Regions from separate parts of the Homo sapiens genome. Here region 2 is linked to region 1. The links come from fine-mapping of genetic effects on gene expression. A gene starts in region 1. The other region holds a variant in brackets. All regions are shown on one strand. Distances are from middle to middle. Region 1 holds the start of SPTA1 (spectrin alpha, erythrocytic 1). Region 2 overlaps SPTA1 (spectrin alpha, erythrocytic 1).

The links.
Region 2: its variant is fine-mapped to the expression of SPTA1 in subcutaneous fat (GTEx, PIP above 0.99). The same link has a PIP of 0.9 or more in breast.

The regions. Positions count from the first base shown.
Region 1 is chr1:158,683,751-158,689,140 of GRCh38, reverse strand. SPTA1 (spectrin alpha, erythrocytic 1) reads left to right here and starts at 2,426. Exons shown (of 52, transcript NM_003126.4): 1 at 2,426-2,647; 2 at 3,794-4,033. The coding sequence starts at 2,624. RefSeq lists a cis regulatory region at 1-5 and a silencer at 365-579.
Region 2 is chr1:158,652,323-158,657,712 of GRCh38, reverse strand. SPTA1 (spectrin alpha, erythrocytic 1) reads left to right here. Exons shown (of 52, transcript NM_003126.4): 19 at 19-236; 20 at 1,057-1,149; 21 at 2,965-3,102; 22 at 4,288-4,439; 23 at 5,060-5,246. Among named protein-coding and RNA genes, the nearest start is that of SPTA1, 32 kb to the left of the region's middle. The variant A/G (reference allele first, on the strand shown) is at 2,724.

The DNA.
Region 1 (5,390 bases):
ATAAAGCTTTTTCCTTGTGTTTTTTTTTTTCCAGGAGTTTTACAGTTTCAGGTTGTAATTTAAGTCTTTAATCCCATTTGAGTTGATTTTTGTACATAACATAAGGGTCCAATTTCATTTTTTTATGTGAATATGCAATTTTTCCAACACATATGTTGAAAAGACACTTTTATTTCCTTATGATCAGTTCTGCTGATTGGGCCATGCTATTTCTTTTTTTTTAAAATAAACATTATAGAATTAGTAAGCATTTTTACTTTCTTTTTATTGTGATGATTTTACTTTAGTTCTAGGACACATATGAAGAACATGCAGGTTTGTTACATAGGTATACACATGCCATGGTGGTTTGCTGCACCCATCAACCCGTCATCTACATTAGGTATTTCTCCTAATGCTATCCCTCCCCTATCCCACCACCCCCGCAACAGGCTTCAGGGTGTGATGTTTCCCTCCCTGTGTCCATGTGTTCTCATTGTTCAACTCCCACTTATGAGTGAAAACATGTGGTGTTTGGTTTTCTGTCCTTGTGATAGTTTGTGGAGAATGATGGTTTTCAGCTTCATCCATATCCCTGCAAAGGACATGAACTCATCCTTTTTTATGGCTGCATAGTATTCCATAGTGTATAGGTACCACATTTTCTTTATCCAGTCTTTCACTGATAGGCATTCAGGTTGGTTCCAAAGGGCTAATATCCAGAATCTACAAGGAACTTAAACAAATTTACAGGAAAAAAACAAATGACCCCATCAAAAAGTGAGCAAAGGATATGAATAGACACTTCTCAAAAGAAGATATTTATGCAGTCAGCAAACATATGAAAAAAAGCTCATCATAACTGGTCATTAGAGAAATGCAAATCAAAACCACAATGAGATACCATCTCATGCCAGTTAGAATGGCGATCATTAAAAAGTCAGGAAACAGCAGATGCTGGAGACAATGTGGAGAAATAGGAATGCTTTTACACAGTTGGTGGGAGTGTAAGTTAGTTCAACCATTGTGGAAGACAGTGTGGCAATTCCTCAAGGATCTAGAACCATAAATACCATTTGACCCAGCAATCCCATTACTGGCTATATACCCAAAGGATTATAAATCATTCTACTATAAAAACACATGCACACATATGTATATTGTGGCACTATTCACAATGGGCCATACTATTTCTTTGGTCACAAGGTTATCACATGTTTGGCATTCTTGCTAAGATGATTCTGGAACAGGGAAACAGAACAAATAATGTTGATGGACTAAGAGAAGATTGACTAAAAAAATAAGGAGCAGAGTGCCATGATAATCATATTGATATGGATTTGACTATTTAAATACTTTCAAACCAAATCACCATAGAATGAAACTTTGTTTTTTAGGGACTGTTTTCTCACATAAAGACGGGTATGATAATACCTGCCTCACAGAATTTTTAAAGATTAGAAATTAATGTAAATTGATCATGTTAATATATAAATATTTCATAGATGTTGATTCTTTTCTCTTAAAGATAAAATAATTTCCTCTCCTTATCCCAACTTCAGACAAATATTCCTCAGTGCATGTGTTATAGTGCAGTCTCTAAAATTATGTTCCTGCCTTTACTACTAAATTTGACTTGAATATAATGAAACTATATGGAAAAGTAAAGTAATCCAGACTTTCAAGAAGAGAATGTAAAGGACTCTCAGTTTTTCTATGTGAGATCCAAGAACAGGGGAAACCACAAATGTAGAATCAAAATCTTCTCTTGTAGATCATGGAAGTTAGATTATTCAAGCTGCATTTACACTGGAATGAAGTTTGGCATGGATAGCCCCACTGGCTTGTAGAAAGGTCTAAGAGCATCCCACTATTTTCTTTTTGCTTGTTTGTTTCATTTTTGTAAGTTAGTCTAAAATAACTATGCCTATGGAAAAAGTCTACCTCTTTTTGTTCTCCATTAAAATTAATACATACAGTAGGATGATTTATACCATATATATCAGAAGTCAGCCATATTTTCAACTTTTTTGTGACATCATTGGTTTGTCAAATAAGGTATCCTAATTTTTGTTTTACAAAATATTAATGAACACATCATATAACTTTTTTTGTTCCTTCCATTTAAATGATTAAGAGTACAACTAAATCAGATTTTTAAAGACCAAATTGTTGAGGTTAGGAATAAAATCTTATTTTGTGAAAGACTCTCTAGAAAAAGCCAGGATAATTCGTTGACTTAAAGACTGTGAAAAATCTGCAGTTGAGTTGGATGAAGTTGTTGAGCTGTATTTCCTATAAATATATGGGGTTTTTTTTCTAATTTTTCATCCAAAAACCTTACTTTCATTTTTTAAGTCTTATTGAGTAACTTTGAAAGCCAGAGCCTCCCAAAACTGCTGAGTCACCCAGTATCTGTAAAACTTAGCAGTTGCCTCAGCTGAGTATGTCTTCTAAAGATAATGTCGATTGTGTATGGCTGATGGGATTCTAGGACCAAGCAAGAGGTTTTTTTTTTTCCCCCACATACTTAACGTTTCTATATTTCTATTTGAATTCGACTGGACAGTTCCATTTGAATTATTTCTCTCTCTCTCTCTCTCTGACACATTTTATCTTGCCAGGTTCTAAACCTTTAGGAAAAATGGAGCAATTTCCAAAGGAAACCGTAAGTACATATTTCTCTTCCATGCAATTTGTCATTAATATTATTAGGAAAGATGTTTCCTTTAAACTTTCTATACTATCTTTCCCAGGAACATTAATAATTATTTGGCTTTTAACAAATAGATAATTTTACTTTTAACTATTTTTTGTGAACAATAACCTTGAGCTTATGTCTGTGCAGCACCAAGACCCAGTAATGACTTAAGTCGGTTCCCAGAGAGAATAAGTAGGGAGATTGAAGCTAAATAACACCTAGTAACAACGTGAGTCTCCATGTAATGATCTAATTCTATAGCCATGCCAGTAATGGCAATTCACAGAGTAGCAATTATACTTAGGAGGAATAATGGGAGATTAAAATTTAAACTCTATATTAAACATTTTGGCTGAGGTAAGCTAGGGAAAATGGTATCCATATCCAGAAGAATGAAGGTGAACCCTATGGTGATTTTGCTGGATATTGTCACAAACAGGTTGGCTCCCACTCTGGGAAAAGGATACTTATATATTGTTTTAGAGTAAAAGTTTTTATATTTCAAAAATAAATTGCAGACATGCTAATAATTTGAAATTTGTGACAATTGGGCAGAAGATAGCTGAACTTTTGATTTATAGTGTTTGTGAGTAAAGCAAGTAAAGAGTAAATATATGAGATTTATTTTTAAGTATGAAGGAAACAAAATTTTCAAACTGTTGCATATATCATTAACTAAATTAATTGCAAGCCATTCTTAATTATTTATTAAATTAAGTTAAAAATAATAAGCACTTCTCAACACCTTTTTAGCCCTTGAAAGCAATAACATTATATTTCTTTTTATCTATCTGAAATTATGTGATTTTGCTGATTTAAACTTGCTCCATGATCAGTCCAATATAATTATATCTATAGAACTTAAATGCTAGCACAAATTTATGTAAAAAGTGAGGAGAGTCTTCTGGATAATCAAGAATTTTTAACCTAAACAGAAGCTATGTCTGGTTAAAAATTACGTAAATATACTACAGCTCTTCTGACAATAGTCCCTAGAAACTTCAGGATATCTGAATATAGGTCCAACATGAGTAAACACCTTGACACATATAAGCGGGGCAACATGTTAAATATTTGAGAACTAGCAAGTAACAGAATCTTTTTAACTTGCAGGTTGTGGAGAGCAGTGGGCCAAAGGTTTTGGAAACAGCAGAAGAGATCCAGGAGAGGCGTCAGGAAGTGTTGACTCGGTATCAAAGTTTCAAGGAGCGGGTCGCTGAGAGGGGTCAGAAGCTTGAGGATTCCTATCACTTACAAGTTTTCAAGCGAGATGCAGATGATCTGGGGAAGTGGATCATGGAGAAAGTCAATATCTTAACCGATAAGAGCTATGAAGACCCAACTAATATACAGGTCACTCAGTTCTCTTGATTGCCTCAGAGCAGACCCTAAGATCTCTAGAGAAGGAAATAGGTTTTTCTTTATGTTAATGTTAATGGGTATGTGTGGGTACAATTAGATTCCGTTTAGAAACAAAAATAAGTCAGTGGAGTGGGAAGTTAAAGAAATAAATTAATAGAAAATCTAAAAGTGCATTTTCCCTTATGAAGTTGGAGAGGTGAGACTGAGAAAATAAGAATCAAACAAAAAGCAGCAGTTTTTCAGTTGTTGAAAGCACAGAACTGTTTTTTACAATGAACTTCCATTCAGAATATACATTTTTTAATCATTAACCAAGGATATTGCTTATTGATAAGGGCATAGGATACTTTACATATTTTCATGGTGAAGCATTCATCAATGCCAAAAGTAAAAAATTACATCAATTTTTTTTCAGATCCAGCACAAATATTATGGTAATGTAAGTGTATATCTGGTTAATTGTAGTGGGAGTGATGTAATGGAAAAATTAGACTGTCTGTTAGAAACAGTAATTCTGCCTCTAAATAGTCCATGTCTTCATCTTCATAAACATCGGGGTGTTATTTGCAAAGGAGATTTATTCTGTATAGAATTTGATGGTTACAATACTCATCTGAAATTGACCTACAGGCAAAACAGCAACTGCAAATTCAAGAAATTTCTGACAAACCATGTGATTTTTGATATTTTGGGACATTAAGAAGGGAAATAGGGTGAAGAGTCATCAATGCTTCTGAAGCAACTGTCCTCCACTCTTCTCAGAAATATAAGAGTTAACCAGGTTAACTAAAATCCAATTTAGTTAACCTGGTTAACTCAATTGCTATTCATGGCTCTTAAGTTTTTCCTAAAATGTTGTTCATGGGTCTCAAGTTCTAATGAGAGGTTTCAGTAGAAGTTTGGTGAAAGCTCCTACGCGTTTCTGATCACCTAAAATTATAGCATGTGATACCTGTTCTCTACTCTTCTCAGAGAGATGAGTTAACCAGAGTTTTTTTTTTTTCTTCCCTAAATTGCTATTCATGGCTCTTAACTTCAAAAGAGAGGTTTCAGTAGAAGAAATTTGGTGAAAGTGCCTACCCCTTTCTATTCACCTAAAATTATAGCATGTGGTGTTGTCATAATCAGAAGCAATTGATGTTGGACAGGAAACACCTAGAACAAGAGCAAAATAATGTGCTATATTGAATGGATCAATTTATAGATTACAAGAACAGGCACAGCATGCAAAAAAAACTCTCAATTTTTTTTTTTAAAAACCATTATTATAACTATCATCTTTCTCATTGTGCTCTACTTCCAAAAAAAAATCAGTTATTCCTCTTTTCTGATGAGGAAGGACACTGTG
Region 2 (5,390 bases), 31 kb after region 1:
TCTATAATTACTCCATAGGACACTTTGCTGCAGAAGATGTGGCCTCTAGGGTCAAGAGTTTGAACCAGAATATGGAGTCTCTCCGTGCTCGAGCTGCTAGGCGACAAAATGATCTTGAAGCCAATGTCCAGTTCCAGCAGTACCTGGCTGACCTGCATGAAGCAGAAACATGGATCAGAGAGAAGGAACCTATTGTAGATAATACTAACTATGGTGCTGATGAAGAAGCAGCTGGGGTAAGGTGGGGGTGGGTTTAACATTGTGAATCCTCAACAAACGCAACCAAATTATCAATTTAGGGTTTGCTTAGGTTGTGGGACAGCTACAGATTCTGCCAGATTATTTGGGGTTTCCAGAGTGGTCGCCGTTGGCCTTCATCTGCTGAGACTCCCTCAGAGTTGACAGGAATCCCAAAAGATATGCTACATTTTTCTCATCCCATGGAGATTCATATACTCTTTAGAGATTATCTAAATCAAAAAAGTGTGATCAGAGTCATAGTCATAATCCGATCCTAAACTTTCCAGAGTAACCTTGAGCATTTATAAATTAATCATGGTTTTAAGATAGAGACACCTTAATTACTTGATTAAAATAAAATTGGACAGATATGTTGGGGCAAGAAGAACCACAAAGGTTATAATCACACTTTTTATCCATTTATTTGTTTTGCACATTGTCCCATAGGAAGCTGGTATAGTATTTCACAAACCTTTGGAACTAGAAATTATTGGTATGCATATTTTAAGTTACACTAATGTTTATCCTATAAAGTAACAGTATCAACAGCATCCTCTTTTCAGCTATAATCTGTGTTGATAAAAATACTTTTGCAAGTTTGAGTTAATTTTGATTTTAGTAAACATATTGAAATTATAATTTATTAATTCCTATTTCCTTCATGCTTGCAAATTTAGGGTTAAAAATAACTTTATGATAGATGGAAAGCAGCTTTTACCAGGATTTAAGACAAATAGCATAACCCAAAATAATAGTAGTTGAAATAATAGTGTTCCTCCTATATTCATTCTGATGATCTTCCATCAATAAATGCAGGCTCTTCTAAAGAAGCATGAGGCCTTTCTATTAGATCTCAATTCATTTGGAGACAGTATGAAAGCTCTGCGGAATCAGGCAAACGCCTGCCAGGTAAGACTAACTTAGCGATGACAGGATTCACACTTCCCACCACAAAGAAAAAGAAATTGTCTTTATTGCTGATTTTTTACTTTCTACAACCCCAAAAACAATGGCAAAGAAAACACTAAGTTCTATGACCCTTGTATGCAGGAACTGTAGCATCCACAATTTAGTCCAAAGGAGACTTTGTCCAAAAGAGGTTTTTGATAAATGGTATCATGTCTTCATTGATGTATTTTTGGCTTTCCTCTTTCCTTCCTTTTATATTTCTACCCTTCTTTCTTTCTTACTTTTCTTCATTTATGTCTCTCCTTCTTATCTTTCTTCTTTACTCCCTTCTTTTGTTTCTTAATTTTTAATGCCAAAACTTATTAAATGTCTACTATATGTAAGTATGAATAAAAAATCCTGATTTGCAGGAAAATTACAGTCTATTAGGAGGCCAGATGTTTAACAGTAAGTGCATATAATAGATGTATGAACAGGACAAAGAGTCTCAAAGAAAGGCCTCTTGTGTTCTCTTGAAATAACAGTACTGGAAAACAGGAAAATTTTTGTAAGCTAAGGGAAACCGCCTGATCTGAATTATTAAGGAAAGACAGATGGGTAGTTTACTGTGCAGAGAAAGAGGATAAGCGTTTTTCTAGTCAATAAACCATGAGAGCAAATGCACTGAGGCACAAAACAATCAAGTTTTGTGGAAAATGCAATTGGTTAAGAATGTGAGAATGGAAGATGCAATTGGTTGAGAATATGAGAATGGCTCAGGTACAGGGCAAAACTGGGTGTCATGAAGATTAATTGAACTGGAATCAAATAAATGTTATAACAATGTCTACTATATGTAGTGGTAGAAAAAAAGAGACACACTTCTTACCTTCAAGGAATTCTTTCTAATGAGAGGTTGTTAATCCACACATTCAGAGTAAACAAAAGACGTAGACTCAGTCTGTCAAATCAGTGTATATTTACAGACCTCCTATACTGTGCCTTCACCAGGCTCTGCACAGTGGGTGCCTAAACAAGAACAGAAGGATTTATATATTGTGTGGTATGAGGAAACATGTTACCTAAAGGAGATGAAATTAGAGGGCTCTGTCGGTGGAGGTGCATATTCAACTCCAACCTGAGGAAGGGGTGGGTCATTCCTTAGGAAGAGGGGTTATGTTTTGCTTGATTTCTCAGAGACATGAAATTGGCAGAAAGTAAAAATCAGAGAAAATTCTACCTTAGAATGCAGGCTGCTTACTAAACTGAGACACAAGATACTTTTAATGATCTCAGTTAATGTTCTCAGTTTTTAAAATTCTGTGGCCTTTCCTGTGCTATTGATCACTCATATCTCAAATAGAAGGTCCGGAGCTCCTGACATAGTAACTTAAAGGCCAGAAGGAGTGGGAAGAATTATCACTGGAGGTACAGGGAAAGGTGACGACAGAGAGTGGGTCTTTTCACTTTCTCAAACAATTTTTTGAAATGTTGATGTGTATAATCCTGTTGGACCTTCTTAAGGGAGTACACTTCTTAAAATGTACTCCTCCCATTTTAAGAACTGATGGCTTAGAGCATTTAATACGTTTCTG[A/G]CAAATTATGTATTTCCTTCCTTGCTTTGGGTTTATAGTTCCCAACCTGCCTGTCCCCGATAAGTGTCAGAATGGAGCAGTCTCTCTGAAGACCACATACTTTAATCTCTGCAGCCACGTAAGAGGTTCCAGCCAGAGGCTCTTTTCTCCTGGGAAGCCTAAAGGACTACTCACCCCTGGTAAGCTGTACAGGGAGATATTTCCAGTGCGTGACTGACACCTGCTTCCTGTTTTTATTCAGCAACAACAGGCTGCACCAGTGGAGGGAGTTGCTGGAGAACAAAGGGTCATGGCTTTATATGACTTCCAGGCCCGCAGCCCCCGAGAAGTCACCATGAAGAAAGGTGATGTCTTAACGCTGCTCAGTTCCATCAATAAGGTGACTTTTCCTTCTAATCTTTCCATCAAAAAGTGGCTCTTTCAGAACCATCTCTCCCAATCCTGCCAGATATTCATATTTTTACCATCTAACATTTATTTTATTATTTTATTTCTTGAATAACTATAACTGATTAGGTAGTATTTTTCCTGTAGATATTTTGCAGGATCCTACACATATCTTTTGGAATTATAATCCCAATGTTGCAGTTAAAATCATAAAGAATTGAAGTTATATAATTAGCCCAAAGATATAGAAAGTATGAGTGGAAATTCTATAATATATTTAAAGGGCTAAGCTGTCTCTTTCTTTCTTCCTCTTTGCTTGTTCCTCTTCTGTGCCAGTATTTCTAGTGATAAAATAACAATGTCTGGGGTTAGAAGGAGCCTACCAAAAGATGAGTCTTTTGTCAACTTGATTTTCTTTAGATCTTGTGCCTGGAAGAACAGTGATAAAATATTGGTTGAGATTTTTAAATATATTTTTCATAAAAACTGAAGTAATTTTTTATACTCTGATACCTAATTAATCTACAAAAATTCTTAAGAAGAAAAGAAAATAGTTTGGGCTATAGTTATTCCAAAGACAAGTAAATGTTTGGAGCGGCAGATGTTTCATTATCAAATAATGTGTGCCAGTCCATTTTTTCTTTGTCTAGGCCTCTTCATTATTTTTTGAGGAAATTAGCCTCAGGGTTTTGGTAGATGTGGCAACAGTTCAAAAATAAAAAATAAAGTAACACTCAGGTATATGAATGTCAGAGCAATTCACATTTTTCAGACCTCTGCAAGAAGAATAGAAGAGAAGAATTTTTGTGCAATATCCTCTTACACAGACGCTCCACTGCCAAGAAATCCAGCTAGAGCCTGGCTCCATGTGTTTTTTGTAAATTCCTCATGAACAAAGTGCCCCATCATTAAAAGAGCTGTCTTGGGTGTTTGAAAATCTCTCCAAAGTTAAGGGTCTAACATTAGGTATCAGATTACTTGATTTCAGGGGCTTGTCTATGCAATTCTTCATTTCATTTCTTGGTCATATATGAAAATTATGTGCCACTCATTAGACATGGTTAGCTTATCTTTGCCATTAACCTGTGCCTGGGCCAAGAGACTTAGTGTTGAAGTCTCTCCCGTTTGTTGCTTTTCCAAGAATTAATGACGGAGTGGGGATCTGCTCTCCCTTCAGGACTGGTGGAAGGTGGAAGCTGCTGATCATCAGGGCATTGTCCCAGCTGTCTATGTCAGAAGACTGGCCCACGATGAGTTCCCGATGCTCCCACAGCGGCGACGAGAAGAGCCAGGAAACATCACCCAGCGCCAGGAGCAGATTGAGAACCAGTAAGTTCTGGAGCCTGGAGAACTGAACAGTATTTGGTCAGACATTTTTCGCCAAAGGCATTTCTTCTCATGACCCTGCATCTGTTAGATTTGAGATGCCACAGAAAATCTGAAGATTTTAAGAATCGAAAGTAAACCTAGAATCTTTTAAATGTTTCGGTTTCTTTTTGAGGAAAGGCAACCCCAGAATCATTCCATCAATTTCCTGAGGTCATACACTTCACAGAGCTCTTCTGATTCCCTGCCCCACATTCTTTCAAGGTTATTAAAGTCTCCTGACATCTATATGAACTTTGTTTACTATGCCAGGCTTTTCATATCCAATTGTCAGTTACCATGTAAAAATGTCACTTTTATGAAATGGGAAAGGAATGTTGCCAGTCATACTATTGGGTCACTGGCATTTTTACTATTTTTAAATGCAATCCTATGTGTTTATCTTTTTGCCCCCAAGGCTGTTTTCCTTCTAAGTTTATTTCCTCCTCTCTTCTACTATTCTTTTGCTTTTGATTTGTTTTCCCTTTCATTTTTGTTCCTTCTTTCTCTATGTTTGTCACTCAGCCTCTACTCTTCTGTATTTTCTCCTTCTTTTATTCCACTTTTCCCAATTCTCCATCCAGATACCGCTCCCTCTTGGATCGGGCAGAAGAACGCAGACGTCGTCTATTGCAACGTTATAATGAATTTTTATTGGCCTATGAGGCAGGAGACATGCTGGAATGGATTCAAGAGAAAAAGGCAGAAAACACTGGAGTGGAACTAGATGATGTTTGGGAGCTGCAGAAAAAGTTTGATGAGTTCCAAAAGGTGAGAAAGAGGAACCTTCTCTTGAAGGTTGCCATTGTTTGCTTTTATCCCTCAGCATATTCTACATGATCTTTTAATTTATTTCACACTTGTTAAATATTCTCCCCAAAGCTATTGGCAACTCTGTGGCTGAGATCTCCCTCT